Linked DNA regions of Homo sapiens: region 1 is linked to region 2. Evidence: fine-mapped expression QTL. A gene starts in region 2. The other region holds a variant in brackets. All regions are shown on one strand. Distances are between the middles of the regions. Region 1 overlaps CUL3 (cullin 3). Region 2 holds the start of CUL3 (cullin 3).

Region 1 (2,912 bases), 79 kb before region 2:
GGGATTACAAGCGTGAGCCACTGTGCCTGGCTGCCCTTACTTTTAAATAAGGGCAAAAGGATTCTGTGGCAGGTTGTATTAATATATTTGAAAAACGGAAGACCAAATGAATGCATAAATTAATAGACTTTTCTATTCTGTGCAACCTTAGTGATTTTGTTCCCTTATTGCAGCTACTGCCTGTAAAACCTGTGACGACATGTTGCTTTTCCCTTTGGTGTCACAAATTCCAAAATGAAGTCAAAAGAGACCAATTCAGATGTGAGCATGTTTTATGCTTCAGTTGATTTTCTATGCTGTCGTGAGCTCCTCAGGTTCCAGAGATATCATATATCACAAAGGCTTGAAATTGAGCTACACCAACCATTTTCTGAGATGAGATCTACTCTATCTATGCCTTAATATTCTTGGCATCCAATTATTGTTTGACATATAACCTTCAGAACCAGATGAGAGCAAACAACACTCTCTACTAGAAAGTTTTCTAGTTCTTTATCTTCAGCATGCCTAACTCTCAGTCATAAAAATGACTGTTTACCAACTACAGCTGTGTAGTTGTTCAGTTTTTTTTTTTTTTTTGAGACGGAGTTTCGCTATTGTTGCCCCAGCTGGAGTGCAGTGGCGTCATCTTGGCTCACTGCAACCTCCGCCTCCTGGGTTCAAGTGATTCTCCTGCCTCAGCCTCCTGAGTAGCTGGGATTACAGGCATCCACCACCATGCCCAGCTAATTTTGTATTTTTAGTAGAGATGGGGTTTCACCAAGTTGGTCAGGCTGGTCTCAAACTCCCAACCTCAGGTGGTCTGCCCACCTCGGCCTCCCAAAGTGCTGAGATTACAGGCATGAGCCACCATACCTGGACAGTTGTTCAGTTTTTTTGAGACAAGGTCTTGCTCTGTCGCCCAGCATAGAGTGCAGTCACGCGATCACAGCTCACTGCAGCCTTGAACTCCTGAGCTCAAGTGATCCTCTGCCTCAGCTTCTGGGACAACAGGTGTATACCACTGTGTGCCACTAATTTTTTTCTTTTTTCTTTTTTTTTGTAGAGATGGAGTCTCACTAAGTTAACAAGGCTAATTTCAAACTCCTGGCCTCAAGAGAGCCTCCTGTCTTGGCCTCCCCAAATGCTGGGATTATAGGCATGAGCCACCAAGCCCATCCAGTTGCTTGTTTTTGAAGCCAATTACACATTAAGTGAAATGTCTAACTACGTTTGGGCATGTCAAGTATTTCAAACAATATTTTTTAATAGACCATGGCAC[C/A]CATTTAAGCACAGCAATGGGTCATGCTTAATTTTTATCTGTGAAATGTCCTAATTTTACATATAATTTTATATCTTTAAATAAAATTAAATGTTATTTTCAAATGCATTACTACTTACCCCTTTGACTCCCTTTTTCAGCTTATCATCAATAAATAATGAGAGGTATTCAGGAGACCTGGAGTTGAGGTTGAGAAAATACTCAAAGTCACCCGCAATAGTTTGTTTAAAGAGACGGTCATTGTTGAATGATTCCAGGAGGAAGCGATCGAACCTACTCTTCAGATCCAATAAGCCCTTAGAAATAAAAACAAAATTTAGGACACATTATAATAATTTTTCCATAAATAATACACTTATGACCATGTATGTTTATCTTAACTTTGCTGGTAATAAACATGTATATTCATTTTTAAACTTACAGTTTTGATATTATTTTCAAGCCTATATCTAAGCCTCTATTAAAAATGTCAATGAGAGAAGTATTATAACTTCCATATATGTATTAATACAATGCAAACGAACCAAAGAACCTCCTCACTGTTTCTCATTCTCCTGTCTTGATGGAATGGGTTAGCCAGTGAAAAAAATTAGCTTAAAAAATGTACCAAAAAAAGCTGATTATGTTAAAACACAAAACATGGCACATAATTTATTCATAGTACTCCTTGAAAACAAAACATTTTCAAACAAAAAATACTTAAACCAGTTGTTTTTTCCAATATACTACAGTATACAAACACTAAGGCATACCAAAGAACCTCACATTCACTATTGAGGCTATTTAAACAAGGTCTTCATCAAAGAAGTTAAATGAAAAGTAGCAGCTGAATTTTAGCTCCCTGATATAAATACGCACACCTTGCAAAATCCTAAAATATGTAGGATAATTACAAATATTAATTTACTACTGGGACAATTAAGTTGAAAGTACACAATACACAGCATGGTAAAAGTGGCCTTTTTAGCACTTGTCAAAATGCCTTTATCATAAACACAGAGAATCTTCTGGGTTTACTTACCTGGATATAGTCAACAGGATTCTTTCCTTCTCCTTCTTCAGAAACAAGAGCTTTACCTTGCTCCCTCAAATAGGAACTCATACACTCACACATTGTTTTCAAACCATTTGGCACACGACTAAATAACTTGTACATGCAACCAAGGTCTACAAATCAGAAAACACAAATTGGCTACATTAAAGATTAAAGAAAAAAACACGAATCTCTGTTCACGCTATAATACTGAGAGAAGCTTATTTCTCCATTACCCCCATTTGCTGACCACATGACTATTAAAAATATACATATATTGATATGAAAACATGAAGAAGTAGGCTAGTTAATGGTTATTATTGTAATTTATAAAACACAACTTTTAGATGAGATGCTTTGAAACCATCAATTAAATGTCCTAGCAAATTTAAATTTACATGGAAGAGATGTCAAAAACCATAATAAACAAGTAATGTCACAAAAACATGGCAACTGCAGTTTTGAGTTCATAAATACTTTATCCTACATAACTCTAATGCAGACCTAATGACACTACAAAACGTCTACAAAAAGGGTCACTAATTAAGAGGTAATTGGTAGTCCCTGTAATGAGGAAGAAATTTTAAAGCCAGTTTAAGTCTTATGGGTATTTCCAAA
Region 2 (2,912 bases):
ACATAGGCAAGTATGCCCAGTTCGTTAACAGTACATTTTAATTGCTTGCCACGGGGAAGCTGAACCAGATTTGACACCCAAAGTTATATCCTATATACTAAACATCGCAAGGGTACGACTCAACGTAATGCCAAAAAAGAAAAAGTTTCTGAGCAGAACACGTTTGCTGTCACTGAAAGCGATGAAACAAAGCTACTCCGCAAGGCGACTACACTCATTCTTTGGGCTCCCAAGGCTGAGAAATGGAGAACCAATTGGCCGGTTTGCTCTCTGTTGCTTCCCCCCCACCCGGCCTTCCTCCGAGTGGCGAGGCAATCCTGCACAAGAGTTTGTAAAGTGCTTAGGAAGCTTGTAGGATGAAAGACGCTATAAATACACCCAATGTTACTAGTTTATGACCACGGAGCATTCCGTGGAACCACTGTCACTGCGTCGGGGGCAGGTTGATGGCATAGACCTTCCTGGGGAGGGGGGCAGAGAGAGAGGGCAGCCCCTTCATCACCCTAAAAGCTAGGCTGGGTAAATTTTCAAAGTGTAGCGAAACCCCACGTGAAAAGTTCCACACACGCCCCACACAGGGAGGACTCCGCGGCTGCTAGCAGCGCCGGAGACTGGGCCTACAACCCCGGCAACGTGGGGAGGCGTGGGGCGGCCGAGGGGCCCCGGCCGCAGCCGACGCCCGCGGAGCGGCTGAAGGAGCAGCTCCCGGACGGGGGCGCGGCGCCAGGCCCGGGCTCCCGGCGCGGGGAACGGCCCGGGAGGGCGGCCGCGCCGGGGCCCCGCGCCGCCCGGTTGCCGGGAAGGCTCGCGCCCCGCGGCCGGCGGGCGTGGGGGAGGGGAGGCCGGGCCTGCGGCCTGTTGGGGGACTTCAGCCCGGGCCTCGCGTGCGGCTCTCGGCCCGGCCCCCGGCCCCGGGGTCCCGGACGCCGAGGAGAGACTCACCGGAAAGGCCCGGATCCGCATCTTGGTGTCCTTCCGGCTGCCCGTGCCTTTGCTCAGATTCGACATGGTGCTCGTCCCCTCCCCGGCGGCGGCTTCAGGTCGCGCTCCGCGACGCCGGTGTCACATTTAAGGCGGGCAGGCAGGCTAGGGGCGACGCTGGGGGCGGCGGCGGCGCGACCCCCGGGCAGGGCTGGGGAGCTGGCCGGCCCCTGGGCAGCCGCGGCGGCGGCGGGGGCGGCGGCGGCGGCGGCGGCGGCTCGGACTCTGGCGACTCCGATGCGGCTGGGGGGCTGCGCTGGCGCGGCGGCTCCGCGGGGTCCCCCTCACGTCCGGCTCGGCTCCCTTTATCGCGCTCCTCCGCGATGGCGGCGGCGGCGGCGACGGACAAACATCTCACTGCGCAGGCCGAACGTCGTCCTCCTCCTCCTCCTTCTCCTCCTCCGCCTGAGCGAGACGAGATCCGGCCCAGAGGGTGGAGGGGGGAGGAGGGAGGGAGGAGAGCCGGAGAGTGAGAGATGCCGGGGGAGGGAGGTGGGAGGACGGGAGGGGGAGCCCGGCGGCCGCCGCGGGGGACGCTCAGATCTCGCGAGAAGAGGGCGAGCGCGCTGCCCCCCTGGTGGGCGGGGCGAAGCCCGGGAGAGGGTGGGCGCCACCGGAGGGGAGGAGGGGAACAGGGAACTGAAGGAAGTGGGAGGGGCCGGCGGGGCGGGGAAGCGGAAAGGGGGCGTGGCTGAGGGCGGGAGGATTAAGCTGCCTTTTTGAAAGTGGAGCGCCAGGTCCCGGGTTCTGGGTGGAGGTGGTTGCTGATTGGTGGAGCTCGGAGCGGCGGTTGGGAGGGTCCTGGTCACATGGTGGGGAGTGGGAGGGGGGAAGTTCGGAGAGCGGGAGCGGGATGGTAGTGGGCTGGGCCCCACTGGGCTGGGACAGCAGGAGGATAGTCTTGAGGAGGAGCGTGGGGTGCTAGATGTGTAACTACGTCCCGAACTGGTTCCTGTGTTTTTCTAGGGCATGTGGACTAGGGATGGGTACTTGAGTAGAAGCCTGCAACTTGAAGAGTTTGTGCAGGAGTTAGCTGCAGTGTCGGAAATTAGTGTCCTGTATGCTCAACAAGGTATTCGGACTGGGTGTGCACACCACAGCTCTCAGGACTGGAAGGTGGAAATTTAATCTACGAAGTTCCCTTAAACTGCATAAGCTTCGGGACCTCTTGATTCACTGATATTTTCTGGTGGACCCAGGGCTTATTCATGTTAAAACCTGTTTTTCATTACCATCAGAATAAACTGACAGCTCCATTAATGAAATGCAGCATTTGGTAAATAATGTTAAGTGGAATGATAGAAACCTATCTTTAACCTACCGGATAAATCATTTCTACCATTACCAAGAGTATTGTAGATTTTTAAAGCCAAAATTACCGTCTGATTCAGTTGCTGTATATTTGAAAAGGTTTTGGCTTTTGGTTTTGGAGGAGAGGCGTTTGGTCGCTTTATAGTCAAAATGTCTAATTTGACTTATCGGTTTTGCTGTCCATTTGTTATGAATTGTACTTCCTCATTTACCTACTTGCCCAATTGCTGTTATGTTTGGGTTTCTGACTCTGCAAGGGAATACGTGAGTTCTTATTAAAGTTTGTGTTCTTCCTATTTTAAAGAAGCATATGTTTGGGGGATGGATATCTACATTTAGAAGCTGGAATTTTAATACTTTTAAATAGCAAACAATATAAAGTGAAATACACTTATTTGTTGACTGTAAGGTTGAATTTGCCCTAAATTAACTTAATCCTGATGACTAAGCTTATGAGTGTTGTGCTTAAAGCCCCTTCTTGCTTAAAACGCCCCACTGCAAATACCATATTTTCTTGTTTTTTTTTTTTTTTTGTGGGAGTTTTTTGGTATTGGCTAATTAAAGCAGGAGCTTAAGAAACAAGAATGTTGCTTAAGACAATATCTGTAAATACTGAAGCT

What was found. PIP is the estimated chance that this variant, and not a neighbour inherited with it, causes the effect.
Region 1: its variant is the best candidate, but not a certain one, in a credible set for the expression of CUL3 in whole blood (INTERVAL, PIP 0.87).

Annotation. Positions count from the first base shown.
Region 1 is chr2:224,504,576-224,507,487 of GRCh38, forward strand. It overlaps CUL3 (cullin 3), which reads right to left. Exons shown (of 16, transcript NM_003590.5): 7 at 2,283-2,428; 8 at 1,381-1,557. Among named protein-coding and RNA genes, the nearest start is that of CUL3, 79 kb to the right of the region's middle. The variant C/A (reference allele first, on the strand shown) is at 1,262.
Region 2 is chr2:224,584,002-224,586,913 of GRCh38, forward strand. CUL3 (cullin 3) reads right to left here and starts at 1,362. Exons shown (of 16, transcript NM_003590.5): 1 at 943-1,362. The coding sequence starts at 1,008. RefSeq lists silencers at 826-1,085, 1,416-1,835.